Linked DNA regions of Homo sapiens. The protein of the gene in region 3 purifies or fractionates together with the protein of the main gene of each other region. This does not show direct contact. Each region holds a gene or a part of one and is shown on either strand. Other genes may lie near its edges. The genes, in order: RNASEH2A, RAB3GAP1, C6orf141 and FAM83H.

What was found.
Region 1: the proteins of C6orf141 (region 3) and RNASEH2A purify together in Homo sapiens (affinity purification with mass spectrometry; 2 studies listed by BioGRID and IntAct, with this or other methods). This does not show direct contact.
Region 2: the proteins of C6orf141 (region 3) and RAB3GAP1 purify together in Homo sapiens (affinity purification with mass spectrometry; 2 studies listed by BioGRID and IntAct, with this or other methods). This does not show direct contact.
Region 4: the proteins of C6orf141 (region 3) and FAM83H purify together in Homo sapiens (co-immunoprecipitation; 3 studies listed by BioGRID and IntAct, with this or other methods). This does not show direct contact.

The regions. Positions count from the first base shown.
Region 1 is NC_000019.10:12,808,497-12,814,516, forward strand, and holds the end of RNASEH2A (ribonuclease H2 subunit A), read left to right. Parts: intron 1-1,574; coding exon 1,575-1,712; intron 1,713-1,820; coding exon 1,821-1,908; intron 1,909-4,586; coding exon 4,587-4,710; intron 4,711-4,831; coding exon 4,832-4,970; 3' UTR 4,971-5,144; downstream 5,145-6,020. UniProt on the Homo sapiens protein: Catalytic subunit of RNase HII, an endonuclease that specifically degrades the RNA of RNA:DNA hybrids. Participates in DNA replication, possibly by mediating the removal of lagging-strand Okazaki fragment RNA primers during DNA replication.
Region 2 is NC_000002.12:135,054,278-135,062,740, forward strand, and holds part of RAB3GAP1 (rab3 GTPase-activating protein catalytic subunit), read left to right. Parts: intron 1-3,733; coding exon 3,734-3,809; intron 3,810-8,463. UniProt on the Homo sapiens protein: Catalytic subunit of the Rab3 GTPase-activating (Rab3GAP) complex composed of RAB3GAP1 and RAB3GAP2, which has GTPase-activating protein (GAP) activity towards various Rab3 subfamily members (RAB3A, RAB3B, RAB3C and RAB3D), RAB5A and RAB43, and guanine nucleotide exchange factor (GEF) activity towards RAB18.
Region 3 is NC_000006.12:49,546,005-49,553,631, reverse strand, and holds C6orf141 (uncharacterized protein C6orf141), read right to left. Parts: upstream 2,965-7,627; 5' UTR 2,840-2,964; coding exon 2,105-2,839; 3' UTR 1,537-2,104; downstream 1-1,536.
Region 4 is NC_000008.11:143,723,404-143,731,866, forward strand, and holds the end of FAM83H (protein FAM83H), read right to left. Parts: intron 7,195-8,463; 5' UTR 7,180-7,194; coding exon 6,733-7,179; intron 5,921-6,732; coding exon 5,756-5,920; intron 5,689-5,755; coding exon 5,564-5,688; intron 5,321-5,563; coding exon 2,518-5,320; 3' UTR 530-2,517; downstream 1-529. UniProt on the Homo sapiens protein: May play a major role in the structural organization and calcification of developing enamel. May play a role in keratin cytoskeleton disassembly by recruiting CSNK1A1 to keratin filaments. Thereby, it may regulate epithelial cell migration.

The DNA.
Region 1 (6,020 bases), on a different chromosome or scaffold from region 3:
CCTAGCCCAGGACACCCCCCACTCCCTGGACACCTGCTGAGTGTCGTCTCTCGTCCCTCACCCTCCTATCCCCTCCAATCTGTTCCCCAAGCAGCAACAGAAGGTAGTCTTTTTGAAATGCACATCTCGACATTTAGTTTTCCGATCACAGTGGAAATTAAATCAGGAAAATTCACAGTCGAGTGGGGCAGAATTACATTAAATTACCAGAGAAAAACATAAATCAGCATTGCCTCGAATGCTCTCAATGAAAGAATGGACCGTTCTGAGAGAATAACAAGGCAAAATAACCTTGACGTAGGAATTGTATGCTGGGTATGGTGGCTCACGCCTGTAATCCCAGCACTTTGGGAAGCTGAGGTGAGCAAATTGGTTGAGGCTAGGAGTTCCAGACCAGCCTGGGCAACATAGCGAGACTCCATCTCCACAAAAAGAAGAAGAAAGAAAGGAATTATAGCAAGGTAGACCCTGCTGAGGAGGGACCTGAGGACCAGGCCCAAATGCAGAGCTGGCGATACAGTAACTGGTGTAGACAGACAAGGGCCCTACCCGTAGGCGTTCAGGGCCTAGCCTGGGCAGAAAGATGGTCAGCTGGAGGTTGGGCGCAGTAGCTCACGCCTGTAATCCCAGCACTTTGGGAGGCCGAGGCGGGCGGATCATCAGGTCAGGAGTTCGAGACCAGCCTGACCAACATGGTGAAACCCCATCTCTACTAAAAATAAAAAATAAAAAAATAAAACATGAAAGATGGTCAGCTGGTAAACAAAAAATAAAGGTTGTTTCTGAAAACAGTAGTGCTGTGGAGATACCACTTTCCCCCAGCAGCTCTTGGACCCTCTCTTCGGTGCTGCAGCCAAAGGCCCCCATGCATGGGCCCAGCATCATGAACCTGGTCCCAGCTCAGGGCCTTTGTACTGGCTGTTCTCACACCTAGAGCCCTCTTCCCCAGATCTCTGCACAGTTCACTTCCTCACCTCCTTCAAGCCTTTATTCACCACTACACCTAGCTAACTTTTTATTTTTTGTAGAAACAGGGTCTCCATATGTTGCCCAGGTTGGTCTCAACCACCTGCCCTCAAGCGATCCTCCCACTTCGGCTTCCTAAAGTGTTGGGATTACAGGCTTGTGCTAACGCACTCTACCAATTTTTTTCTAGTGTTTTCTGCCACCTCAGTTCCTAGAACAGTATGTGGCATGCAGTAGGTGCTAAATAAGTTAGAGTAAAAGCAGCGTGATAGAGAAAGCCTCTTCAGGAGGTGAGTTTTTTCTTTATTTTATTGTATTTATTTTATGTTTTTATAAAGATGGGGTCTCACTGTGTTGCCAAGCCTGGCCTCAAACTCCCAGGATCAAGCGATCCTCCCGCCTCAGCCTCCCAAAGTGCTGGGATCACAGGCCTGAACAACTTTGCCTGGTCTAGGAGGAGATGTTCGAGTTGAAATCCCTGATTGATCCATCCTGGGGACGTGCTGGAGAAGAGGATTCTGGGTAGCAGGAAGAACGTGCCAGGGCTGTGAGGCTAGAGCATTGGTACAGTTGTTTGTTCAATTAATATGTGTCTGTTGCTGTGGCAGGTATTCGTGGACACCGTAGGGATGCCAGAGACATACCAGGCGCGGCTGCAGCAAAGTTTTCCCGGGATTGAGGTGACGGTCAAGGCCAAAGCAGATGCCCTCTACCCGGTGGTTAGTGCTGCCAGCATCTGTGCCAAGGTCAGTACCCTACTAGCCATGGCTGGCTTCCACCATCCCACTATATAGGGGCCAGGCATGGCCACCAAAGGGAAGGAGGGAGATTCCAGGTGCCTGTTTTGCCCACAGGTGGCCCGGGACCAGGCCGTGAAGAAATGGCAGTTCGTGGAGAAACTGCAGGACTTGGATACTGATTATGGCTCAGGCTACCCCAATGGTGAGCAGACACGTGACCATGGTACTAATGTTGAAATGGCCAGGGCTGAGCACACTTCTGAGGTTTTCTTTTTTTCCTTTCTGTCATTTATCATTTTATTTTGCTTATTTTTTGTTTTTATTTGTTATTTTTGTTTATTTTTTGAGACGGAGTTTCGCTCTTTTTGCCCAGGCTGGAGTGTAATGGTGCGATCTCGGCTCACCGCAACCTCCACCTCCTGGCTTCAAGCGATTCTCCTGCCTCAGCCTCGCGAGTAGCTGGGATTACAGGCATGTGCCACCACACCCAGCTAATTTTGTGTTTTTAGTAGAGACTAGTTTTCTCCATGTTGGTCAGGCTGGTCTTGAACTCCTGACCTCAGGTGATCTGCCTGGCTCAGCCTCCCAAAGTGCTGGGATTACAGGCATGAGCCACCGTGCCCAGCCTATTTTTTGTTTTTATAGAGATGGGGTCTTGTCATGTTGCCCAGGCTGGTCTCAAATTCCTGGAGTCAAGCAGTCCTCCCACCTTGGTCTTTCAAAGTGCTGGGATTACAGCCATGAGCCACCACCCCTGGCCCTTTTTTTCTTCTTTTTTTAAAGAGATGGGGTCTCCCTATGTTGCCCAGCCTGGTCTTGAATTCCTGGGCTTAAGTGATCCTCCTGCCTTGGACTCCCAAATAGCTAGGATTACAGGTGTGAACTACTGTGCCTGGCTGGAGGTTTTCTAAATTGCTCTGGTCACCCTACTCCACAGTGAAAGAGGCCAAGTGTTAGACAGTGGTGCCATTTGTTTATGGCCACACAGCCAGTGAGTGATAGAGCTGAATTCCAGGCCATAGGATTGCTGCTGTCTTCCCCGCTTCCCACTTTGCTGTCTTTCTGGAGCCCCAGTGATGGACTGAGACCCAAGGTGGGCATTTGTCCCTTTGTTAAGGGGAAGGGGACCAGGCGTGGTGGCTCATGCCTGTAATCCCAGCACTTTGGGAAGCTGAGGTAGGAGAACCGCTTGAGTCCTCGAGTTCAAGACCAGCCTGGGCAACATAGCGAGACCCCCATCTCTATAAAAAATTTAAAAAATTAGCCGGTTATAGTGGTGCCCACCTGTAGTCCCAGCTACTCTGGAGGAGGAGGCTAAGGTGGGTGGGTTGCTTGAGCCCAGGAGTTGGAGGCTGCAGTGAGCTATGATTATGCCACTGCACTCCAGCCTTGGTGACAAGATGAGATCTTGTGTCAAAAAAAAAAATAATGTTAGCCAGGCGTGGTGGCTCACACCTGTAATCCCAGGACTTTGGGAGGCTGAGGCAGGTGGATCCTTTGAGGTCAGGAGTTCTAGACCAGCCTGACCAACGTGGTGAAACCCCATCTCTACTAAAAATACAAAATTAGCTGGACGTGGTGGCACACGCCCGTAATCCCAGCAACTCGGGAGGCTGAGGCAGGAGAATTACTTAAACCTGGGAGGTGGAGGTTGCAGTGAGCCGAGATCGCATAATTGCACTCCAGCCTGGGAAATGAGCAAAATTCCATCTCAAAATAATAATAATAATAATAATAATAATATTTAATGACAGGCTGGGCCAGGTGGCTCATGCCCGTAATCCTAGCATTTTAAGAGACAGAGGCAGGTAGATCATGTGAACTCAGGAATTCACAACCAGCCTGGGCAATATGACAAGACCCCATCTCTACAAAAAATACAAAAATTAGGTGTGGTGGTGCGCACCTGTAGTCCCAGCTACTTGGGAGGCTGAGGTGAGAGGATGGCTTGAGCCTGGGAGGCAGAGGTTGCATTGAGCTGTGATAATGTCACTGCACTCCAGCCTGGGTAATAGAGCGAGACCCTATCTCAAAAAAATAAAAAGGCTGGGTGTGGTGTTTACACCTGTAATCCCAGCACTTTGGGAGGCTGAGGTGGGTGGATCACCTGAGGTCAGGAGTTTGAGACCAGCCTGCCTGTCCAATATGGTGAAACCCCGTCTCTACTAAAAATACAAAAATTAGCCAGGTATGGTGGTGGGTGGCTGTAGTCCCAGCTACTTGGGAGGCTGAGGCAGGAGAATCGCTTGAACCTGGGAGGCGGAGGTTGCAGTGAGCCGAGATCGCACCATTGCACTACAGCCTGGGTGACAGAGCAAGACTCCATTTCAAAAAATAAGTAAATAAAATAAAAATGTTTAATGACTTGTTCTTGGAGGTCAAGGAGATGTCTCAGAGGCAGTCTCCCTGCACTGCCCTTTTAGCAGCTCTTGGCCAGGTAAAGGTCCTGTGGCAAGAAGGTGCTTCAGACCATAGGAGGTGCCCCAGGTACTCAGGAGGAAGCCTTAGAAGAGCGGCAAGGAGGCCGGGCGTGGTGGCTCATGCCTGTAATCCCAGCACTTTGGGAGGCCGAGGGGGGTAGATCACGAGGTCAAGCAATTGAGACCATCCTGGCCAACATGGTGAAACCTCGTCACTACTAAAAACACAAAATTTAGCTGGGCATGGTGGCATGCGCCTGTAGTCCCAGCTACTTGGGAGGCTGAGGCAGGAGAATCGCTTGAATCCGGGAGGTGGAGGTTGCAGTGAGCTGAGATCGCGCCACTGCACTCCAGCCTGGCTACAGAGTGGGACTCCATCTCAAAGAAAAAAAAAAGAGTGGCAGGGAGCTTGAATGTTATGGTGCAACTTGGACTGTCACCATTGCCCACCCTACCCCAGATCCCAAGACAAAAGCGTGGTTGAAGGAGCACGTGGAGCCTGTGTTCGGCTTCCCCCAGTTTGTCCGGTTCAGCTGGCGCACGGCCCAGACCATCCTGGAGAAAGAGGCGGAAGATGTTATATGGTGGGTGTCATGGATGTCCTGGGGGTGCTATAGGGAAGGAAGGAGGGAGGCCAGCGTTCAGCCCTGCCTGAGAGGGTTGCTCCCTGTGTAAGTGGTCACTGTCATCACCTCTCTCCCACAGGGAGGACTCAGCATCCGAGAATCAGGAGGGACTCAGGAAGATCACATCCTACTTCCTCAATGAAGGGTCCCAAGCCCGTCCCCGTTCTTCCCACCGATATTTCCTGGAACGCGGCCTGGAGTCAGCAACCAGCCTCTAGCAGCTGCCTCTACGCGCTCTACCTGCTTCCCCAACCCAGACATTAAAATTGTTTAAGGAGAACCACACGTAGGGGATGTACTTTTGGGACAGAAGCAAGGTGGGAGTGTGCTCTGCAGCCGGGTCCAGCTACTTCCTTTTGGAACCTTAAATAGAATGGGTGTTGGTTGATTAATTTTATTTGGTTTGATTTTTTTCATTTTTAAATTTTATTTATTTTATTTTATTTTATTTTATTTTTTTGAGAGACGAAGTCTCACTCTGTCACCCAGGCTGGAGTAGAATGGGGCAATCTCAGCTCACTGCAACCTCTGCCTTCCAGGTTCAAGCGATTCTCCTGCCTCAATTTCCCAAGCAGCTGGGACTATAGGCGTGTGCCATGCCCAACTAATTTTTTTTTTTTTTTGAGACACAGTCTCCTGTTGCCCAGGCTGGAGTACCATGGCACAATCTTGGCTCACTGCAACCTCCACCTCCCTGGTTCAAGCAATTCCCCTGCCTCAGCCTCCTGAGTAGCTGGGATTACAGGTGCACACCACCACACCCGGCTAATTTTCTTTTCTTTTCTTTCTTTCTTTTTTTTTTAATTTGAGACAGAGTCTCACTTTGTCACCAGGCTGGAGTGCAGTGATGCAATTTTGGCTCACTGCAACCTCTGCCTCCTGGGTTCAAGCGATTCTCCTGCCTCAGCCTCCCACGTAGCTGTGACTACAGGCATGCGCCACCACACTCAGCTAATTTTTGTATTTTTAGTAGAGACGGGGTTTCACCACGTTGGCCAGACTGGTCTTAAACTGCTGACCTCAGGCAATCTGCCCGCCTTGGCCTCTCAAAGTGCTGGGATTACAGGTGTGAGCCACTGCGCCTGGCCTAATTTTTGTATTTTTTAGTAGAGACAAGGTTTCACTATATGTTAGTCAGGCTGCTCTCTACCTCCTGACCTCAGGTGATCTGCCCACCTCAGCCTCTCAAAGTGCTGGGATTACAGGCATGAGCCACTGCACCGACCTTTTTAGTTATATTTTTAATTTTTAAAAATTTTTAAATTTTC
Region 2 (8,463 bases), on a different chromosome or scaffold from region 3:
AGGAGACCACACTTAGAAAGAACCACTGCTTAAGACAATAGTGAGAGACCCTTCGTTTTAGAGTGGCCAGGTGATATGATGAAAGTGGTTTTAGGACATGATGTAGAATAATGGTGGGAGACTTAACTTGATTCATAATTAGGATGGTGATTTGTGGACTGGAATACAAAGGGAACCTAGAAGGGAGGATTGTAACATATTTCAGAGAAGATTTAGGTAATAAACTTGATGATACGTTAAAAGTGGGAAAAATCAAATGTGAACTGTAGTTTTTTGCCTGTAAGAATGAATGTAAGGAAGTGTCAAAGTGAGAAGATTTGAACCTGTTGATTTTGAAATAATTTGATGTCTTGAAGGTAGTTAGAAAAATGTAATTCAAATCTTGGAGGGTGGGGTAGGGAAACATCAGTTTTGAATGGAAAAATGATCACTTTCCCCTAGTTAAAAATATCCTGAAGTGGAATATTAAGTCCTTTAGCTTTGCATATGGAAATAATTATTAACACCGTTATAAGAACTATTGCAAAGTAGAAAATTTGGTTTTTGGCTTTTACACTGTAGTGTGCATTTTACAATTCATGAGAGAAAATGTTAAGACTTTGAAGTCTCAAACCTTGAGTTTAATTTTAAATGAAAGATCTTGTGAGTACAATATGTTATGAACTATATAGATAATTTATTGAGAGAACTGTATAGAAGCCCATAACTCTTTTTATCATTTGTTCATTGACAATATTTATTGAATCCCCATATGTCAAGCACAGTGCACATTACGGATTTAGGGATGTGGTGGTTAGTAAAACAGGTACGGTTTCTGCTTTTACTAAATGTGCAGTCTAGTGCATTACAGACACAAATCAAGTAATACAAGTCTGTAATTATGAGTTTATGTAAGAGCTAGAAAGGGAAAGAAACCTGGTCTTATAAGAGCCTATAACAGAGGGACCTAATATAGAATAAGGAATCAGGAAATGACCCTTCATTTCCTGAGAGCTTTTAAGGAAAAAATTACTTAGTTTTTCTAGTCAAATCTCAATACTTGTAGGATAAAGTCCAAGTCTCTTAGCTAGTACTGATAGAATTCATTATTCATACAATAAGTATTTTAAGACATTCCTGGCCGGGCATGGTGGCTCATGCCTGTAATCCCAGCACTTAGAGAGGCTGAGGCAGGCAGATCACTTGAGCTCAGGAGTTCAAGAGGAGCTGGGGCAGCATGGCGAAACCTTGTCTCTACTAAAAATACAAAAGCTAGCTGGGCATGGTGATGTGCACCTGTAGTCCCAGCTAGTCAGGAGGCTGAGATGGGAGGATTGCTTGAGTCCTGGAGGACAGAACTGCAGTGAGCTGTGATTACACCACTGCATTCCAGCCTGGGTGACAGAGTTGAGACCCTGTCTCAAAAAAAAAAAAAAAAAGACATTTCTTCTTTTACTGTAAAAACTATATTTTAAATAGTTTTCACTATAATAGTAATACCTTATAGTAGAATAAAAAATAAAAATCACCTGTAAACTTAACACCAGGAAATAACTGCTGTTAATTTTTTGACATATTTCCTTTTTTTTTCTTTTTTTGAGACGGAGTCTCGCTCTGTCGCCCAGGCTGGAGTGCAGTGGCGCGATCTCGGCTCACTGCAAGCTCTGCCTCCCAGGTTTACGCCATTCTCCTGCCTCAGCCTCCCAAGTAGCTGGGACTACAGGTGCCCGCCACCACGCCCGGCTAATTTTTTGTATTTTTAGTAGTGGCGGGGTTTCACTGTGTTAGCCAGGATGGTCTCGATCTCCTGACCTCATGATCCGCCCGCCTCGGCCTCCCAAAGTGCTGGGATTACAGGCATGAGCCACCACGCCCGGCCGACATATTTCCTTCTAACGTGTGTTAAAAACTTTTTTGGATCAAATATTAATATTTCTTTTTCTTTTTCTTTTCTTTTTTATTTTGAGACAGAGTCTCACTCTGTTGCCCAGGCTGGGGTGCAGTGGTGCAGTCTTGGCTCACTGCAACCTCTGCCACCTGGGTTCAACCAATTCTCCTGCATCAGCCTCCTGAGTAGCTGGGATTACAGGTGCCTGCCACCGCGCCTGGCTAATTTTTGTTGTATTTTCAGTAGAGACGGGGTTTCACCATCTTGGACAAACTGGTCTTGAACTCCTGACCTCGTGATCCACCCGCCTCAGCTCCCAAAGTGCTGGGATTACACGCGTGAGCCGCTGTGCCTGGCCTTTGTATATTTTCTTTTGATTGACATGATTTTTATTGGGTGCATATTAGTCCTCTGAGTGGATTAATTTACAAGTATTTCCTGCAGTTGGGCATTAAGGTAACTTCCAGTTTTTTTAGCTTCGTAAATATAGTATACATTTCATGCAAATTTTTGCTTGCCTGTGGATATATTAAATTTTTCCTCTTTGGTAAACATGTAAACTTGTTTCTAGAGCACTGATTTTCAAACCTAGTAATTGTCATTTGACTGACCTCCCCCATGAATTAGTGTATGAATTGATACTGCATTTAATTTTAAAGAGGAATTAGTAAGAAGCCTCAGATGAATCATAGATTTATTATTACTATCTTAAAACATAATTATTAGTTCATATTAGTTCATAATGTCACTGAAGGAAAAAATCTGTTGCCTTTCCATACAGTTTGACTAGAATTAACTCTAGTACTCTAGCAGTACTTCCAGGTGTTTAGAGAGCAATGTTGCTGTTAGATTGCATCATACTTAGCTTATATAAGAAGTCAACTTAGAGTAAGAATAATTCTTCTGAAAATGTCTTTGACTGAGACTTGACAGTTTTCATTTACTGATGTTGAGCATGTTGCTACTCAAAATTCAGTTCTCTTTTTAATAGGCCTTCTTGACCATTGGATTTAAAGATTGGTGACTAGTTTTAAGACCTGTCACTTATACTTAAAGTTGACATATTTACTTGCAATTTCTTGTCAGCTGTCCATTAAAACTTGTTTTAGTTTCATGAACCAAGTTACCAAATAATATTTTCTTTTTTTGTTGGGGGCTGGGGGGGTAAATCGGAATTCCTAATATATTTAAAGGAAAAGTTTATTTAAATAGGTCAGTTATTGTGGGTAGGAGAGAGATGATTGGTTTCATAATTTTATTTATTTATTTATTTTTGAGATGGAATCTCACTCTGTCGCCCAGGCTGGCGTGCAGTGGCGCGATGTCCGCTCACTGCAACGTCCGCTTCTATGTGATTTTTGTGCCTCAGCCTCCTGCGTAGCTGGGATTACAGATGTGTGCCACCACACCGGGCTAATTTTTTTTGTATTTGTGCTGGGCTGGTCTTGAACTCCCAACCTCAGGGTTAGGAATTCAAAGGGCTGGAATTACAGGCATGAGCCACTGCACCCAGCCCATAATTATCTTTAATAGTATCATTTTAGTCTGTCAGTTTTTATTTGTGCCCCAAATTTGTTTTATTCGTTTTATTAGAGATTCATCAATTCTTAATTTACATTTTATAGAAGGCAGAATGCTTTTGTTGGGTAAGCAATAGATATAAATGAATCAAAACCTAAGAATTCTTGAATGAAAGAAGATTATTTCTCTTACCCCATATCCATAAATTAAGCTAGCAATACTAAATGTACTGAGTCCTCTCTGGTCAAATTGTTAAAATATAAAAAATACCTTTTTAAAGAAATTACATAATAATAGGAAAAAAGGTGTGCTGTTGTATTTAGAAGCTTTCTCCCTACTTCCTAGGTTTATTTCCAAAGTTGAAGAAGTCTTGAATGACTGGAAACTGATTGGAAACTCTTTGGGAAAGCCACTCGAAAAGGTCAGATCTATTTGCTGGTGTCTCTAAATGACTATTTACTTTGAAACCTCTATTTTCCAGCCCTTTGCTGCATTTGGCACATTTGAATTAAATGTTTTTTAAAGTTACGTATAATCTATAAACATCAAATAGCATTTGGAAGAATTTGGATTTAAATCTGTGGCAAATGATATATGTAAGACATTTGTGAAATGTTTAATAAAGTTATATATATGTGTGTGTGTATATATATATATATAAAATGTCATTCTTTGTGAGTGATTCTTTGTGAGTGAAGTTTGCTTCTCTTTTGCCTTCTCCCTTGGAATGTTAAAACATGTTTTTAAAAGTTTTTTATTTGGTCAGAGAAACATTGCAGTGACCATCTTCTTTGGTAGCATATTTTGCTTACTAATGAGGAAAATTCTAGTACTTACCATTGACTTACTGTAGTTAACAACTATTTCACTCAGTTTTTGTATTTTATAATATCACTAATAACATCCCCCTTCCCTTTTAAGCTTTTTAACTTATGGATGTTTTAAGGATTTTATTTAAGAATGAAAAAATTACTCTTTGAAATTGAGGTAGAAATCAAATTCTAATCTAAAGTATTGGTAGTTTTATTCATAAACCACACCCCAAATGTTTACTGAAGAATGTACTCTGAGAACAAACCTGGATTCACTGTGAAGGGATCTAACAATTTGATTTTAAGTTTATGTAGATGCTTAGTTTGTTAGATAAATTCTTTTGAAATAAAATTTATGGTTGGTTTTATTACAACTCAATATTACTAACTCAGTGATAACTTATTAACTCAGTAATTATTAATTCAATAGTAATTTAATTATAATTTACCCTGTGTTAGGAACTTTGAGTTCTCAATATTTGCTAGGGGTTTTCAGCTTTGTGATGGTGATACTATCAAAAAAGAGACTGTCAAAATGCATTAGGAAGCCAGGCAACATGGTGAGACCCTGTCTCTTAAGGAAAAAAAATCTCCTTATTTGTATCAATATGAACAGAAAAAGTAAGACCACATATAAAAAATACATCATTCAAAGACTCTTGGCAATATATACATTGATTTACTACACTACATGTGTGAATAAAGAAAATGTGACGCTTTCAAACACGGGTCATTCTACTCCACTTGAAACAAATACATAACAATTGATATAGATGCCAATAAGATTAGAGGCAAAATAAGCTGGATATAGCTAGAATAGGAAATGATTTACACTACTAAGAAGAGAGCTAAACCGGGTACTTATGAGCTCTGATATTCTTTCATTCTTTGATTTACATGTATTTACTGAGTACCTGCTATGTGCCTGATGTGAAGAAATTGTGAACAAGATAAGATCAGTGTTGCCATTGAACATAAATTCTAGTGAGGGTGATCAGTAAAGAAACATTAAAATTTTATTTTATTATTATTTTTTAAATTGATATATGATAGATGTACATATTTTGGGGTACATGTGATAATTTGATACATGCATATAATCAAATCAGGGTACTTGGGAACCCTTAAATATTTATCTTTATGCTAAGAACATGCAAGTTACTCTCTTTTAGCTATTTTGAAATGTACAGTCAATTAGTGTTAACTAAAGTCACTCTAAGGGTTAAAGTTTTAGATGCTAAATTCAGTTTTGGGATTTAAGTGGGTAGTTATTTAAAGTAGGTAGCATACTGCCAGGCATGTAGTAGAGGCTAATGAAGTCATAGCTCCAGTCTGTTTCTCCCTACTAGATAGTAGTACATAAATAAGATACAGAAAATATGGGCAGATTTCAAGGTGAGCTGTAACTATGATGAATATGAAGAAAGTGTAGAGGACAGGGATTGTTTGGTGTAGAAAACAAAGTTTAGAGACTTCCTTTGAAGATTTTAACTTATATGAAGGACAGTGATTATTAATTTTCTCCTCCACTGAGGGGGAATTAAGGGAAATTATTTATTAAAAACCTTTAATTATGGAAAATTTCAAACATATATGAAGTAAACAGAATAGTATAATGAACTCCCATGTACCCATCACTTAATGTCAACAATTAATACTTTGCCATTTCTTGTTTGAGTGGTACCTCTGTTTACTCCCCTACCTCCACTAGATTTTTTTAATAGTTTTTTTTTGGGTAAGATTTATATACATTGTAATGGACAAAACTTAACTGCTTGATTTTTTTTTTTTTTTTTTTTTGAGACCGAGTCTCGCTCTGTTGCCCAGGCTGAAGTGCAGTGACATGATCTCAGCTCACCGCAACCTCCACCTCCCGGGTTCAAGAGATTCTCCTGCCTCAGCCTCCCAAGTGGCTGCGACTACAGGCACCCGCCACCACACCTGGCTAATTTTTTGTATTTTTTAGTAGAGACGGGGTTTCACTGTGTTAGCCAGGATGGTCTCGATCTCCTGACCTTGTGATCTGCCCGCCTCGGCCTCCCAAAGTGCTGGGATTACAGGTGTGAGCCACCGCGCCTGGCCAACTGCTTGATTTTGACAAATGTTCACATGGGTATAACTTACACTCCTGTCAAGATAGAGGTCATCTCTGTTACCCCAGGAAGATCCTTAGTGACCCTTTCTAGTTAATTCCCATGCCCTCCAGTCATCTGCTATTATTATTATTGTTATTATTATTATTATTTGAGACAGAGTCTTGCTCTGTTGCCCAGGCTGGAGTGCATTGGTGTGATCTTGGCTCATTGCAACCTCTGCCTCCCGGGTTCAAGCAAGTCATATGCCTTAGCCTCCCAAGAAGCTGAGACGACAGGCATATGCCACCTTGCCTGGCTATTTTTGTGTTTCTAGTATTTTGTATTTTCACCACGTTGGCCAGGCTGGTCTCCAATTCCTGGCCTAAAGCAATCTGCTTGCCTGGGCCTCCCAAAGTGCTGGGATTACAAGTGTGAACCACTGGGCCCAGCCTTTTTTTTTTTTTTTTTTTAAATAAACATAAATTACTGTCACCTGCTTTAGAACTTTACATTTAGGTGACCATAAATGTCCTTGACATCCTTTACTCACGATAATGTTTTTGAGATTCATCTAGGTTGTTGTACATACCAGAATTTCATTTCTCTTTATTGCTGTGTAGTAAGTGATCTGTTTTATGAATATACATGGTTTCTTTCACTTGTCCACATACGTACTATTAGGAATAAAGCAGAACATTATTGTATGAGGCCTTTTGTGGGCATATGTTTTTATTTCTCTTGAGTAAATACCTAGGATTGGAATCACTGGGTAATAGGATAGGTGCAACTTTATAAGAAACAGCTAGAGCTTTTTGTACTGTTTTACCTGCCCACCATCAATACATGGGAGGTTGTGTTGCTATACATTCTCACCAACAATCAGTTGTTTGCAGTCATGTATATTTTAGTCATCTTAATGGGTATGTAGTTTGTGCTTTTAATTTATATTTCTCATTTTGGTTTTAGTCTGTATTTCTGTGATGATATTAATATTGACCACTTTGAATTTTCATGCATTTATTAGCCATTTGTTTATCTTCCTTTGTGAAATGTCTTTTCAAGTTCTTTATCCATTTTAAAAATTGGATTTTGTTTTTATTGAGTTGTAGGAGTTCTTTTAGTTTTTTTTTGGTATATATATATTCTGCTTTTAAGTCTTTTCTCAGTAGTTTTGCTAGGTTGTGAAGATGTTTTTAATGCATTTTTCTAGAGGGTTTACCAATTTATCATTTAACCTTTGTTAAGGTCTATGATTTATTTTGAGCTACTATATGGAGGGAAGTAGGGATCAAGTTTCTTCTTCCTTTTTTTTGTGTATGGATATCCTGTTGTTCTAGAACCTACTTTGGAAAACACTTTTTCCATTGAGTTGCTTTGTCACCTTTATTGAGTAGTTGACCTAAGTGGTCTACTTCTGGAGTCTGTATTCTGTTTCATTAGTCTATTTGACTATCCTTATGTCAATACCATATTGTCTTTTTCTTTTTTTTTTGAGACAGAGTCTCACTCTGTCACCCAGGCTGGAGTGCTTGATCTTGGCTCACTGCAGCCTCCTGCCACCATGTTGGCCAGGCTGGTCTTGAACTCTTGACCTCAGCTGATCCGCCCGCCTCGGCTTCCCAAAGTGCTGGGATTACGGGCATGAGGCACTGCGCCCGTCGTATATTGTCTTGATTACTGTAGTTTCAGGTTTCCTAACCTTGGCACTATTGACATTTTGGGCCACATTGTTGTGAGGCTGTCTTATGCATTGTCAAATATTTAATAGTATCTTTGGTTTCTACCTGCCAGATGCCAGTAACATGTTTCCAGTTGTGACAACCAAAATTGTATCCAGATATTGCCAAATGCCCGCTGAGGGGCAAAATTGGCCCCAGCTGAGAACCATTGAATGGATTTTTAGTAAATCCTGATGTTAATGTAAATTCTCCATTTTTGTTGTTTTCCCAAGATTTTAGATCTTTTGTGTTTCAATTATGAATTTTAGAATAGGCTTGCTAATTACTATAAAAAGGAGTATGATTATGCTGAGACTGTAATTGGGGTTGGGTTGAATTTGTAGATCACTTTGGAGACATTTTAACAGTTTTGAAAGTTCTAGTCATGAACATGGCACATCTCTCCATTTATTTAGGTCATCTTTAATTTTCCTCAGCAACATTTTGTAGTTTTGGTAGAGGTCTTGTAT
Region 3 (7,627 bases):
AGAGAAGGCAGCTGAGTGATGCTACTTACCATTTTTGGTTATTGTGAAAGAGACTTTTTTTGTTCTCTATATTCAATGATTAGTCACCTGGGACATGTGATGATTCAACCAAATTAATAAGCTCAGGTCTGAAACTTACATGCCAAGTAAGTTAATCTCCCACTGGAGTCAGGGAGGGTTGTTAAGGAAAAGAGATTCATTTTAAGGGATGAATCTTTTCTACCTGTCAAGCAATTTTGAACACAGATGAGCTCAGATGCTGAATTCCTCTCCCAAGTGAGGGTCTCACAGGCCTAAGAACTGCTAGTGATGATTCTCCAGCCAAGAGGCCTTGCAGAATTCAGGAACATTAAGGTGATTCTAGTACTTCTCATAAACATGAGTTAGAAAACCTAAGATATTGGCCAGGCATGGTGGCTCATACCTGTAATCCCAGCACTTTGGGAGGCGGAGGCAGGAGGATCACCTGAGGTTGGGAGTTCAAGACCAGCCTGGCCAACATGGAGAAACCCCATCTCTACTAAAAATACAGAATTAGCCGGGGTGATGGCACATGCCTGTAATCCCAGCTACTGAGGAGGCTGAGGTAGGAGCATCGCTTGAACCCTGGAGGTAGAGGTTGTGGTGAGCCAAGATCGTGCCGTTGCACTGCAGTCTGGGCAACAAGAGAGAAACTCTGTCTCAAAAAAAAGAAAAAAATAGAAAAAGAAAGAAAACCTAGGATATCCTCAGGCATCTTTTGACCCCTAAGTAAGGGTCAAATAAATCCTCTAAAGGCTGCCCCAAACCTTTAGGAGGGAGATTATCACATTCTTCATCCACTTAGTAAGCATATGCAATTACTAGCTGTGTGACTTAGACATGCTACAAGACCTCTAGGCCTAGGTTGGCTCATGAGTAAAACAGGGGCATCTTATCTATCTGGCCTGCCAGGAGGCAAGAGGTAGATCAGATGATCTTTTGAGAACACTTCAAGCTCTAAACTAAAAATGAAGGCAAAAGGGAAGACTGGGGAAGGAGGCACTTTTCAACTATTTGCTCATCAAAAGCCAGAGTCCTACCTGCTTTGTTAATTCTTGCAGTAAATACTCCTTCAGGTGGTAAAGTCAAGCAGTTCACCTGGAGAGGGCTGCTTTGCTCCTCACAGAGCTTCAACCAGGCCAACTACTAAAGAGTTAATTCACATAGTATTTAATAATAAAGAGGAACAAACAAAATAAGAAAAATTAGTTGTTTCAGTATTACCAGAGGAGATTTTTTTGAACTACACAAGGAGAATGGTATCTTCAATCTATTCTTGACTACAAGTCTCATTAATGAAGAACTATGGAAAAGAATAAGACATGCATTCATTTTATGGCAAACTACATATTGCTATCTACCTTTAGTTCAGAACATTTACATGCAGTATTTTTAATATTAAAATTAAAATGTATGATAAATGCATGTTTACAGGACTAAATTAGCTATTGTTTGCAGTAAAGCCTTTGTAAATGGAATTTCACGTTGAAATCTTAGTCTTCTGTCCCCAACTCCTTCTTTCCCTAGCTCCTCTCGTTTTCTTTCTAACACTGAAATGTGGGGGAGAAAAATGAAAAGTGCACATCAGAAGAGAGTCACTTGCTGCTTTGGTTTTACTTTCCCATTTCTTTTTACTTTCTGTTTTTGGCTTTTAAAACAAGCCTCTTCTCCACCCACTCCCACCCTCTTTGCAGAGAGCAGACTTCAAACTTCACTTCTGTTTCTAGGTCCTAAAGAGAAACAAGAGGGGGGCGGGGAACAGAAAAGAGATCAATTGAGAGTTATTCCAAAATGCAAATTAACAACAGGTTTTCTCATTTCAAAACTCCCACATTCTGCCAATCTGAAAATATCTTTTCTCCACCTCTTCTGAATGACTTAGGTCCCCAGACAGCGAAGGAATTCAAGCCACAAAGGAGGTATTATGCTGCTTACAGTTCTTAATCTGCCTCCCCGAAGCGCTGCACCAGCCTCTCAAAAGGTTCCTTCTGTAGGTTAATTGCAGGTTGGAGCTCCCAGAATAGCATTTTCTTTTAAGGATGATCGCTCATCCACCATCCCGGAACATTTCTCGAGCTACTCATTAGAGTTTAATTTCCTCGAGCCAAGTCCCTGGAGACGGTGAAACCCTCCTCCCCGCGGCGTGGACGCGGGATGCCCCTGTTCGTGCCTGGAGAGCCCGGGATTCAGCAGGGCCCCAGCGTTCCCCAGGCTGTCCCTCTCTACTGCTGCGAAAAGTGAGCGCGGTCACGAAGTGCTCCTCAGTCCTCGTGGTCATGCGACCCTTGGCCCAGGAGGTCTGCAACACTTCTTGTGTTACCTGATAATCCTCCACCCGCACAAGCACGTATTTGGGTGGGTCTGCTGCGTCCCGCGGCGGGGCTACACGCCTGCCAGAAATTCGCTTTTGTCGTTGAAAGACAGAAGGGTAGTTGGGCTCCTCGCCGTGGTCCTCTCCACCCGCATGAGGAAGGTCCTCTGCACCGGCCACCTCTTCCCGTGCAGGGTCCCCTCGAGTCCCTAACCACCTCTCTGGGTGCAGGAGAAAGAGCACTTTCTCTCTGACCCAGGACTCACGGTCCAATTCCTCCCCGGCCCGAGGTCCGAGGGCCCGATCTGCCGTTCTGTCCTCGTGGCCGCCGCCCTGGCTTCGGCTCGCCCCTGCCGTCGCGGGATTCCGGGCGCCCGGAGCTAGCGGAGCCCCGCGCCCTACCTCCCGCGGAAAAGGCCCGAGGTCCCCCAGGCTGCGGGAGGAGTCCATGGGATTCGCAGCTCCCTGAGGCCCCCGGGTCTCCATCCTGGCAAAAGGGTCATTCATTCGTTCCTTCTTTGACCGGTTCAAGCAGCAAGCGCCTGCTGAGCTCCGGAAAGCGCGGGACCACCAAGCCCTGGGTGTGGCCTCTGCTGCAGCTCCGGACTCCCAGCCGGTGAAAGCTGAAGACTAGATCAGCCCCAGGCTAACCGCGTGCGGAACCCGCCTCTTCACCCTCCGCCTCTCCCACCTGGCGGCTGTCTAGCCATTCAGAAGAAGCTTGACACAAGCCCCAGTCACTCCTCTTCTTCCTCCTACCCCTGTCCGGAGCCCTGCTCCCTTTGTCATTCGCTGATTCAGTCCCCTCTTACTTTTCACCTCTATCCTAGTTTCCCACCCACCTTTCGTTTTTCTCCGGAGCTGAGGCGCAAAGGACACCCTCGCACTGCGCCCCCACTGAAATGCCCCGAAGTATGTTTGCTTTCCAAGGACGCTCCTTGAGGTGAAGGAACAAAGAAGTTTGTGTGCATTTTAATTAGCTGATCTAATTCTGAAAAGGGTTTTTGTCCATTCCGAATCCACTCCCACCATGCTGCCAAAATAATGGAATGTAGATCAAATGGTCAGACTGAAAAGCTGAAGCCTTGGAGAAACTGGTTTTGGTTTCTTTGTCCTTCTTCCTTTAGAATGCCAGAATCTGTAGCTCTGGAGGACAATGGTCACACCTGTGTCCTCCTCCTCCTCTTCCTCCTCCTTCTTTTTTCCCGCTCTCTTTCTCTCTCCCTCTCCCCGCTCCCCCTTCCTCTTACCCCACCCCCCCACATTAGATATGGTCTCGCTCTGTAGCTCAGGATAGAGTGCAGTGGCGCAGCCTCGACTTTCCAGGCTCCCACCTCAGCCCGTCAAGTAGCCGGGACTACAGGCGCGCACCCCCATGCCCGGCTTTTATTTATTTATTTATTTATTTATTTATTTATTTATTTATTTATATTTTTCTAAGAGATGGTAGGGGTGGGGCTCTCCTATATTGCCCAGGCTGGTCTGGAACTCCTGGGCTTACGAGATACCCAGGATCCCCCACCCTACCCACACACCCACCTGGGCCTCCCAAAATTCTGGGATTACAGGCTTGAGCCACGGCCCTGGCCAGTCTTCATTTTGTGTGTAATCAACGCTTGTCTCAGGAAGGTGTAGTCTTTGATTTAAAACAAGCTATAAAACAGAAGCAAAACAAACATCCAAATGAATTTTTTCAGGACTTAAAATTGTTTGTGTTTGTGTCGTTTATAAAATTCCCTCTGCACCCACCCGTCCTCTTTAACCACAGGGGTTAAAAAAAGTTAAGTGTCTCTGGCGAGGCTTTTAGAATTTACCCATAGGCAGGCCCGCTGACCACTACTCTTTGCCTAAGGTTAACCGGGGAGGCTAGGTCATAGAAAAAGAGCTCAGTTTGTGGTTTCCAGTTCATCCTTAGCTGTTTGTTTTATTAAAAAACCCACTGATGGCTGGGTGTGGTGGTTCACACCTGTAGCCCCATCATTTTGGAAGTCTGAGGCCGGTGGATCACTTGATGCCAGGAGTTTGAGACCAGCCTGGTCAGCATGGTGAAACCCAGTCTCTACAAAAAGTACAAAAATTAGTCAGGCATGGTGGTACACACATGTAAGTAATCCCAGCTACTTGGGATGCTGAGGCACCAAATCGCTTGAACGGGAGAGGGGGAGGTTGCAGTGAGCCAAGATCATACCACTGCTCTCTAGTGTGGGTGTTAGAGCAAGAATCTGTCAAAAAAAAAAAGAAAAAGAAAAAAAAAGAAAGGAAAGAAAGAGAAATCTAAATCCTGCCTGATTTAGAAAAATGAGTGCAATGGTGAAAAATTCTGCCCATATGTAAAAAACAAAGTAGTATAGTGAGATATTTGGAAAGGGAGGACTTTTGATATCTGCCAAATCATATAAAGAAATAAAGTGATAGAGGAGGAGTGAGAAAATCTGGGTCAGACCTGGGTGATTAGAAGCCTGACCTTAGTGGGCACAGCGGCGCCTACTGGTAATCCCAGCTGCTTGGGAGATTGAGGTGGGAGGGTGTCTTGAGCCTAGGAGTTGGAATCTGGCCTGCACCATATGGTGAGACCTCTGTCTCTTCAACAACAAAAACAACCAAAAAATATACATGCCTGACCTTGGGCTGGTTTCTCCTCAATCACAATGAGCTCAAATTTTTGAGTGTCTTAGCCAAGAATTGTTCTAAGCACTCTATATATTTAAACACATTTATTCTTCACAATAAACTGTGAAAGTAGTAGTATTTCTTTGGTCTCCTTGAAATCTTTGAAGCACAAAGAGGTTAAGTGTGTGCCCAAGGTCAAACACCAATAAACAGTGGAGCCAAGATTCTAACTTATTTAAATGCTTGCTCCAAAATGACTTCTAAATTACCTTCATATTTTAAGCCTGTGACTTCATGTTCTTTTCTATTCATTTACATAACCACTAATTACTAACTATATGCTACTCTTCTAGGTGATAGAGACATCTGGAGGAACAAACCAAATTGCTTATCCTCTTAAAGATTTTATTTATTTATTTATTTACTTATTTATTTGAGACAGAGTTTCACTCTTGTTGCCCAGGCTGGAGTACAATGGCACCATCTCAGCTCACTGCAACCTCCACCTCCAAGGTTCAAGCAATTCTCCTGCCTCAGCCCCCTGAGTAAGCTGGGATTACAGGTATGTGCCACCACACCTGGCTAATTTTGTATTTTTTGTAGAGACGGACTTTTACCATGTTGGCCAGGCTAGTCTCAAACTCCTGACCTCAGATGATCCACCCACCTTGGCCTCCCAAAGTGCTGGGATTACAGGCATGAGCCACCACATCCGGCCTAAAGTTGTTATTCTTATATATGCAGTAACATACATCAATCCTCTGTTCAGAACTAGGAGATAATCAATTAACCTTAATATACATGAAAATTACCTGCAGCTCAAGTCTTACCCTCCTTACAAAGATTCTGTTCTTATAGGTTTGGGGTAGAGATTAGGATACAGATTTTTAGCAAATCCCTCAGTAATTCTAACCTAGTGGTTTATGGACATTATGAGAAGCATTTCCAAAAATATGTATAGATAAACTCTAACACTTTTTTGCTTATTTAGAGTTGCAACAAGAATACTATATTTTCTTTCCTTGAAGAATATTGGGAGAATTCCAATAAGGTATCTGTATTTTAAGGGAAATATAATGTAAACCACAACATTTATTGCTTTCAAATAGTTTTCTTGCCATTGTGGATTGCATGAGATATTAGAGTAGGGGGATGAGAAAAGAGGAAAAGTTATTTGCTGAAGAATGAAGCAGACTCATTTGTCATATTGCACTTGAATTTCTAGATGTCAAGAAGTTATGTATTAATGCATGAAAGAACATGAAGGGGAAATGCTAAATAAATCAATCTTCAAAAAGGTAAAGTCTAAAAAGAATATCAACCAGAAAAACAGGCAGCTTGCCTCAAGGATAGTGGTGTCTGTTGTGCATTAATATCTCAAAGTGCCTAAAAGACTGATAGAGGACACTAAAGTGAACCCATTTACTTCCTCTCTGATGTGCCCATTATAGCTGCAAATATGCAGGCCAATGAGGGGTAATAAAGAAATTTATATTTCTGGGATCTGTAAAATTATTGGGGATCATCAGCACATGCTCTGCCCTGGTAGGGCCAAAAGAAGAAGACTTTAATTAATAGCCCAATCTAACCAAAGACCAGTCCCTCTTATTTTGCCTATTAGAACTAGAACTTATTTTACATACTTATGACACTCTCAATCATTTGAGCAATTCTGCCTTCCGAAGGTTTACTCTCCACTTGCAGACCTCTGCCTTTAATTTACAACTGTAGCAATATTTCATAGCTTATTTTTCCCCAATCAGATATAACATTCTTGAGTTGAAAAACTTGTCTATTCAACAGTTTTTAACTTCTGAGAAAGCAAAAAGTGGCCCTTCAGGTGGCCAGGCCATGGTGATCCCAACTGAACATTATCAAAACTCAGAATAGAAGCATCGTTTATATAAAACCACTCTGTGACCATGTTTGGAACAAGACAGACAAGAACACTAAAAACCGTAAAGAAGATTAAACATCCCCCTCTTATAGCTAACAGAAGTGACTATCAATCCTTTACTAATGATACTTCTGGTCTACATCTACTTTAATCCTCTCCTTTCCTAGATAAAAGTCACCAAGGTACCCTATCACGGAGTTGATCCCAGTTCTTGACAACATCTAATGCAGCACTGGCTCCTGCTTCCTTAAATCTTATTTAGGACTATCATCTCTAGTCCAAATCCTATACAAAGCCTCTCCCAAATCCACTTAGTGAATTATCCCATAATTACTCAAGGGTGCATTCTTAGCTGCTGAAGCAAGAAAAATAAACCTAACTTATTTTTCTTTAGTACAGGAGTGTTCCTGCTGGTCTTTGTTTACTAAAATGTAAAACTTGTCAATTTAGAAAGCATATAATGTTGTACTCCCAAATGAAGTAGATACATACATTGTGGGTAGAAAGTGAGGGGGACACATTGGAGCAGGAATGGATTTGTAGTTACTTGGTTACAATCAGCTTGAAGTGGCTGATTAAGAAATGCGGCAATGCATCAATTGAATACATATATCAATCAAATAAAACAATACATTAATAGGATTTTACTTTTAAGTGGGAAATACAGAGTTGTAGCAAGTAGAAGGACAAAGAAGAACTCTTCTATTTAAGCATATTAGCTACAGTTTTTGTTTCTGTATCTGGTTGTAGAGTTAATGTGACACTCTATGAGTCTATACAATATTGGC
Region 4 (8,463 bases), on a different chromosome or scaffold from region 3:
GCAAGAGACTCAGAAAGGGAGGCTGGGTTTGGGAGAAGGTTGGAGGAGGCGGAGGAGGGATCGGGAGGGCCCGAGGAAGCGGTGAGCCAGTCAGAGACCCAGCCCAGGGGCTGTTTCCTGAGGGGGCTGCCGAGGGAGGTGCTTGTTGAGCTTCAAAAGCCCAAGGCGCAGGCCCAGGGTGCTGAACAAGCAGGACAGAGAGGCTGTGGGAGAGGAAGCTGCAGAGAGGCCACGGGGCTGCAGGGTTGGAGGCTTGGCCTCAGGCTGGGCAGTGTGTGGTGGGGCTGCTGAGTGGGGAATCGCAGGTGGGCACCCAGGAGTGTGCCTGCACAGGGGGCATCGGGGACAGGGACAGGAGAGCAGCGTGAAGTTGGGGAGGCCAAGGTGGGCCTTGGAAGTGGAGCTGGGGGGTCTTTAGTGCCCCCCACAGGGGTGGGTGGTGGGTCCACAGGGGAAATCTGGGAGGCCACGTGGTTAAAGGCTGCAGGATGTAACTGGGCGATTATACACACTGGGGAACATGCTAGAATACTTTGTGTGTTGTGTTTTATTAACACCAAAATGTGCCACATCATGGTTTAGAAGAGGTGGAGGGTGCAGGCAGGAGGCTCCGAAGGCCCAGGCAGGGCCGCCAGCCTCTGGCCTCTCCATGGACTCCAGCTGGAGAGCCTGTCCGCTCAGCAACACCCCAGGCAGCACCAAGAATAACATGCCCACAAGAACATCATGGCCAAGAGACGCACAGGCGCATCCCGCTTCCAGGCACCTTTCCCACCTGGCCAGAAGTCCCTGCTGTCATCCCGACTTGCACGGTGGTTTTGGTAACCAGTGGGCTGTGCAGGAGTGAAAGTGGGGTCACTTTCCTTCCTTTCCCAGCTGCTGGAGTCGGAACTGCTGCCTTTGTTTGGCGGCCTTGTTTCTTAAATCAGTTCCCTCTTAGGATTTATTACACTAAAAAAAAAATTAGTTTTTGAAAAGAAATAGGAGAATACAGAAACATGAATTTCACGAGGCTATCATCTAACAGTGGGGGCTTTCTACACACGTGGTGCCAAAATGTGTCATTCTGAGTCAATTGCAATTCCTCTCTAGGAGTGAAAAGAGATAAAAGATAAGCCAAGAACCCTGGACAGATTCTTGGTGTTGGTGACAAAGAGGAAAGGACCTGAGAATGGGGCTGGTGGGGAGAGGGGGGTGTCTGCTGGATACCAGGAGGACAAGGACCACTCCCACCTGCAGGGGTGCCCAGGACCTAGTTGGGCTCGGCCTCAGCTGCACCTTGTCCCCTGCCCTCACCTGGCCCCATACCTGTCAAGGATAAGCACTCCACAACCAGCCCTTCTAGCGCCTGGCTTGGGCCGGGCCTGTGCAGGGGGTGCTCATGAGGCCGGGGCCACAGGTTGTCTGGACCATGTTTTACTGTGCTGCAAAGGCCAATGCCCCCTCCCCACTCTCACCCAGTGCTGGCCAGAGCCTCGCTGGAGGAGATGGCAGACCTGGCCAAGGCGCCCCTTCGGGCTTCCCTGTGTCCCGTCCCCAGAGGCCTGCCCTGTCCAGCTTCCTTGCCACTCCAAGGGGCATCTTCTGGTCCAGCTCCCCCCCCCCTGCCCCACCCACCCCTTGCAAACTGCCCGCAGCCAGCCCAGTCTTCCCCACAGCAAGAGACGGGCCTCCAAAAAAGATGCTGGGAGGCAGCGAGCAGGAGAATCCAAGTAGGAAAGGAAGTGAAGCCCAGGCGGGGGAGGGGGGAGACGGGGGGGGGGGGGGGGGAGGGAAGGAGGAGACCTTGAGAGAGGGAGGGAGCGGGGAGGGGGGAGGCCCTGAGAACAGGAGGCCCTGAGGAGGAGAAGGGCCCAGAGAATGAGGAATTGAGGCACAGAGGCGAGACCCTTGCAAGAGGATAGGGGACTTAGCGGGGTGCAAGGCTCACGCCTGTAATCCCCCCACTTTGGGAGGCTGAAGCGGGCTGATCATTTGAGGCCAGGAGTTGGAGACCAGCCTGGCCAACATAGTGAAACCCTGTCTCTACTAAAAATACAAAAACTACCTGGGCGTGGTAGCATACATCTGTAATCCCAGCTACTCAGGAGGCTGAGGCAGGAGAATCGCTGGAACCCGGGAGGCAGAGGTTGCAGTGAGCCCAGACCGCTCAACTGCACTCCAGCCCTAGGTCTCAAAAAAATAAAGGGGGCGGGGGGGACTGAGGCACAAAGAGATGGCGGAGCCAGACGCTGCGCCACGCAAGGCTGACGGTGCAGAGATGAAGGTGCTGAGGGGAGAAAGGCACTGGTGGCGAGGGGTGCAGCCCCAGCGTTGGGGAGGCCAGGGGGCAGAGACGGCAGCTGCCAGGTGAGCCTCCAGTGGAGCCGAGGTCTGGCGCACTCAGCCAAGCCCCAAGCGGCCGTGGCCTGACAGCCGCTGCTCAAGCAGATGAGCAGGGCTCTCTGTTCCGCGGGGCTTCTGGATGACCGGGGCAGCGATGCGGGCACCCTGGCCTGGGTTGCCAGGCCAGAAGACTCACTTCTTGCTTTTGAACGTGCCCAGGATCTTGGGCACGAACTTGCCCACCTTGCTGTCCCTGGTGCCCTCCTCCGCGGGGCCTTCCCCTGCCCCAGGGCTGCTGGCCTCCTCTTTCTTGCAGAAGACCTCGAAGCGGCTGTACACGCGCTTCTCCTTGCGCATGCTCTCCATGCGGCGCAGCAGCCGATCGCGCTCCTCCGCGCTGGCTGGCAGCGTGCGGCTCAGCCGGCCCTGGGTCCCCAAGCTGTCCGAGCGGAAGATGGCTGAACACTTGTCCTTGTCGGACATATCTGGGGCCAGGACGCCAGCAGCCGGTGGACGGCCTAGCTCGGGGCTGTTGTGGGTCGGGCCGGGGCTCGGGGCAGGGACCGCACGGTGCTTCTGGCCGTGGGCACTGATCTGCTCCAGAATGGCCTTCGTGTCATCCCGAAGGTTGCTGCTGTACAAGGCGTTGGCCGTGGCTGAGGACAGGCGCGCCCGCGGACCCCGCTCTTCTGTGGCAGCCTCCGTGCTGTCACCCTGGCCCAGTGACAGACGCCGCGGGCTCTCGGGTTGGCCGTTCTCCTGCGGCACTGGGAAGCCACCCTCATCCTCCATGCGCCGCTCGCCCTTGGGGCTCAGCAGCTGCCTAAGACGCAAGGAGCCTTTGCGCAGGACTTCCATGGGGCCGCTCGGCCCCTCCTCCGCGGGCCCGGCCTTCGGGGACTCCCCGGAGATGGTAAGGGTGAGGCTGCCCCTGCGCTCCGGCACGGGGGGCACCGGACTGCTCCTGCGCTCCGGCACGGGGGGCACCGGACTACCCCTGCGCTCGGGGTAGGCTGAGGTGGGGCTCCCCTTCTGCTCGATAAATCCTGTAGTTGGACTTCCTCTTCGAGTGGAAAACCCAGGCGTGGGGCTCCCCTTCCGCTCAGGGTAAGCCGAGGTGGGGCTCCCTTTTGACTCATTATGGAGCACCTGGTGCGCTCCGGACCCTTCCAGCGGCAGAGGGCTGTCCAGCCCTTGCGGGGACGTTGAGTGGCTCTGGGCAGAGAGGAAGCGGGAAGGCAGGCGGTCGGAGCCGCTCCGGCCCAGTGTGTCGAGCAGCTGCGCCGCGGTGAGCGACGCGGCTCCCGGCTGCCGCTCCGCCTCCTGGTGCAGCTGCTGTGCAAAGGAGTCGCGCAGGTCCAGCAGGCAGCTCTCGAGGCTGCGGCGCTCGCCCCCCACGGCACCTGGGGCCGCCACCTCTTCCCGCCACGCCTGGGACACGACGGCCTTGCTGTGGCTGGCAACGGTGATGGCGCCCGCGCCGCCGCCGGGATCACGGGCTGGGCCCTTGTACTTCTCCAGCAGCTCCGCCACCTTGGTGGAAGCCGCGGAGCGCACGGCCTCTCCGCCGGGCCCCAGCGTCTCGCTGACCGTCTGCTCCTTGTGCAGCAGCTGCACCTTCTCAGTGGCCGCCGCAGCCCCGGCCGCGCCCTCGGCCTGTGACGTGCTGAAGATGAGCGAGGAGCGCAGCCTGGAGCTGCGCTGGACCAGGGGGTTCAGGCGCGAGCGGAATGAGTCCTGCTTGGCCAGGCCAGGCTCCTCCGGGCCCTCGCGCTCTGGGCCGTTGCCGCCGCTGCCCGGGCCTGGCACCGGGACCTTGGTGGGGAAGGCTGCTGGGACGCGGAAGGCCGAGGGGAGCAGGTCGCCGGCAGGTGCCCGGCCCCCGGGAGCCAGCACGTCGTCTTCGTAAGCCTCCGCTTCCATGGGCGCCGGTAGGCCGTCGTCGCCCCCATCCTCGCCGTGGCAGCCGCTCAAGTAGGAGGCCAAACGCCAGCGCCGCAGCCCTGCCCGCCCCTCGGGCCCGCCCCTGCGCTCCGGCTCCGCCTCGGGAGCGGGGTCTGGGCCCGGCCTCGCCGCGGCCTGGCATGGGAAGCGCTGGGTCAGGTTGGGGCGCGGGGCTCCGCTGGGCTCCAGGCCGCGGGGTCCGGGCGCGAAGGCGGGGTCCGAGCCGTGGCGCACCTCGCGGGACGCGCTGGACGGCACGTAGTCCAGCCGCTGGTGCCCGTCGGGTCCGAGCTCCGGGAAGCGGGGCCCGGCGCCCAGGGTGAAGTCATCCGGGTCCGCGAAACCCGCGCGGCCCCCGCGAAGCTTCTCGAACAGGCCTTGCGGGCGCGCCGGCGTGAGCTGCGGGTCCCACTGGTACTGCTGCTGGTAGAGCTGGTCACGGTGGAAGTGGCTGGTCTGGAAGCGGAAGTCGTCGCCGTGGCTGAGGAACGTCTGCCGCGACACCTGCCGCGCGGCCGCGAAGTTCTCCACGGCGCCCGCGCCCTCGGTCGCGAAGCTGTGCCGCTTGAAGGCGTCCATCTCCAGGTGCCGCGCCTGGAAGAAGCCCCGCGCGCCCGCGAGCTCCCCAGCCGGCCCGGCCTCGGCCTCCAGGCGCCGCGAGAGCGGCCGCAGCCCCGCGTGCGGTTCCAGCGCGCCCCCCGGCATCCGCGGCGGCTCCTCCCGGCGGAAGGCCGACAGGAAGTGGCGGTCCGGGTCGAGGAAGGAGGGGAAGCCCAGGCCCTCTTCCCGGGGTGGCGGGAACAGGAGGTGCGCTCGTTTAGGGAAGGAGAAGGGGGTTGGCGCCCCGACCCCAGGGACGCCCACGAGAGGCCCGGCCCCGGCATACGGAGCCAGGGCATAGGCGTCCATGCGGGCCAGGGCCGCGGCCGAGGGCACAAGCGGCTCGGACTGCGCGAAGAGGATGCGGAACTCCTCGTCGAAGCTGGAGACCAGCTCTCCTTGGAACACGTGCGCCAGGCTGCGGTGGATCTTCTCAAAGGACCACATGAAGCTGTGGGGGGGTCAGGGCCAGAGTCAAACCGAGCTGGAGCGAGGGCACTGCAGCCCCGTGGGCAGCGGGTGGGGCGCGGAGGACGCAGGGATGTGAGGTCTGCAAGGACCTGGGCCCGGCTAGGCTGTGCAGGGGTCTACAGGACAAGGGCTCCTGGCGAGGAGGGCCCTGGTGTGGAAAGGGGGTGCTGGGGTTACAGGAGGAGGCCCCAGAGAAGGGGGTGAGGGAGCCCCGCGGGCGCACCTGTAGCTCCCACTCATCACCACGGCACAGTCCACCAGCAGGAACTTCTCCTTGACGTGGCCCTTGAAGGACTTCCCAGTGCGGCAGTAGTAGGTGGGGCCCGCCACAGTCCGTACGCGCAGGAACTGGGGAGGGAGGGGAGTCAGATCTCTCCCACGGGTCCTCCCCAATCTCCCACTCCCGGGAACTCACATCCACGTGCTGCAGGTTGACACGGCACTTGTCGGCCATGTCCAGGAAGTGCTGCGCGTTCATCTCATCCAGCAGGATGTAGACTGGGACCCGACGGGCCGCGGCCTCCAGCACTTCGCTGAGCAGGTCCACATCAGTGAACATGTCCATCACCACGGCCACCACCTGCAGGGGCGGGTCAGGACGGAGAGGAGAGGCCCCTGCTGTCCCCACACCATTGTCCAGCCTCCCCTCCACACCCGGGAGGTGTCTGGATCACCCACGACCACTGTGAAACAAGCTAGTCCATCCTAGGGAGTTGGCGCCACATCTGGGAAGATGGGCAGGAAGAAGGGACCAAACAGAAGAGGTGTGGAACGGCTGGCCATAAGGGGGAAACCGAGGCAGGTGCAGGGCAGAGAACCCTGGATGAGGGTGGGCCAGGTTGGGGCACGGCAAGGGCCCCTCAATCCCCTCCACCCTACAGACGGCTGAGCTGCCCCCATTCCAGGGCAGCTGTCAGGGCCAAGTGCCAGGCTCCAGTTCTGCCCTGGGACGGGGTTGTTGCCCTGGGCAGGGGAGAAAGTCACAAGCCTTTAGCGTCTGGACCTCATGCCTCAGTCGCTATGGTTTAACAGCACCTTCCGCCGTCTGCTAGCTGTTTGGTGATGGTTAGAAGCCCTCAGCTGGCCAAGGGCCACCGGGCAGGATGAGAGGTAATTATCTGAACAATGAACCCAGGCTGGTGGGGTGCCCACCCATCCCCAGAGCCCCCGAGTTTCTGGGCACTGGCCATGACCACAGGCAAGCAGACCTGTGCAGAGCCTGCAGCCCCTGATGACCGAGACCTGGCAGCCCTGAAGATCTTTGCCAGGGACCCCCACTCCAGCTGGAGCTCAGGCTCACCCCTCAAGCTGATCATGCTCATGCATCTCCTCCACCCCCGTGCCTCTAGCCCAGGCCCCTCCCCCACTACCCTCAAGCCCAAGATGGCGCACCTGCTGGGCGGAACGGATCATCCTGCGGGCCTCATCCTTGATACTGGGGCTGTCGGGGGGCGGTGGCTGCACCAAGGTGGTCACCTCGGTGCCCTGGAAGCCGAAGGTCAGAGGCCAGCCCAAATCAAGCTCAGGCACGGCCTGGTCTGAGTTCACTGGCCAGTATGTACCCGAGGAGCCATCCATGTCCACGTCGAGAAGGCTGCCTTCAGGTGGCTCTCGGGTAACATACTGCGGAGGCCGAAGGTGTCGGCTCACATGTTCCAGCTCTTCAGGGCACAGGAAGTCTGGTGCCCCCTCGGTAGCGAGGAAGCGGCTGTAGGCCTCCGAGCCACCCTCGGCCAGTGCATCCACCGCCAGGCGGTAGTACTCTTTGTAGTGAGGCGGCAGGTACCCGGGTGCCAGTGGGTTGTCCCCCTGCGAGGAGCTCTGAGAGCGACGGGCCATGTTGGGGCCAGGGGCCTGGAGGGGCAGGGAGACACATGACTAGGGGTGGGGGCACTGGGACCACTCCTACCCTCGAGCATGGACACACTGTGGAAAGGGCCGTCAGTGACTTGGGTAGGCTGGAGTTTAGCCCATGCCCAGGAGGCCTTCCAGGGCACCAGCCGAACCAGGCTCACAGAGAGCAACCCAGACCCTAGGATGCCCCTAGCTGAGGGGACACTGGCAGAGGGCTGGGGCACAGGTATCCCAGCCCTGTCTCTCCTTTCTCTGGGAGGCTGAGGCAGGAGGACTGCTTGAAGCCAGGAGTTTGAAACCAGCCTGGGCAACACAGCAAGACCCCATCTCTACAAAAAATTTTAAACATTAGGCAGGCATGGTGGCGTGCACACATAGTCCCAGGCACTTGGGAAGCTGAGACAGAAGGATTGTTTGAGCCCAGGAGTTGGAGGCTGCTGTGAATTATGATTGTGACACTGCACTCCTGCCTGGGTGACAGAGTGAGACCACATCACTACAAAAAATAAAAATAAAACGAACCCCCCCCCCCAAATATTTCATGACTGTTGGCTTAAAGACAAACAATCCAGGCTGCATTCATCATTATAATATTCACTTTTTTCTTATTTTAAGACATTCACGGACCCCTGGCACTGTGCCTACTGGACAAGCTGGTGCCGCCCATGCTGCCCATGTGTCCGTCTCTGACTGCCTGGGAGACTGTGGGTAGGTCACTGCACCTCTCTGGCCTACCTCTACTGCACAACACAGCTGAGGGTCCACATGACACCACGCCTAGCCCAAGGTGAGCGCAGCAAACAGGGCTGTGACTACCCTCCTCCTGGAATGGCAACCTTAAGCCCCACACATAGTCCCGGGCCACACCTCCTCCCCATCCTCAGGGTTTCACAATTGGGCTCCCACAGCCCATTCTATGACCGCCCAGTCCTGGAACACTGATCCCTAGACTCCGTCCCTGTCTCCCAGCACCCCCTCCTTCCCTTGGCCTACCTTTGACCTCTTTCTTGTCACTGTCCCTCTCAGATAAAACCTCCCTGGGCCACAGCCCCTTGGTGCCCACAGGGCCCTGCAGGGCCTGCACTCCACATCGCCCAAATCTGGCTCTCCACTTGCTCAGAGTCCTGTCCCCACCAGCCCCCATCCAGGGCAGCAGGGACCTTTCCAGGTCCTGGGCTCGCCACCACCATCCATGCTTGGCTGCCCCACAGCCCACTCTGTTCTCCAAAGGGTCCCTGCGGGGGCCTGGCCTCTCCAGAAAGGTGTCAG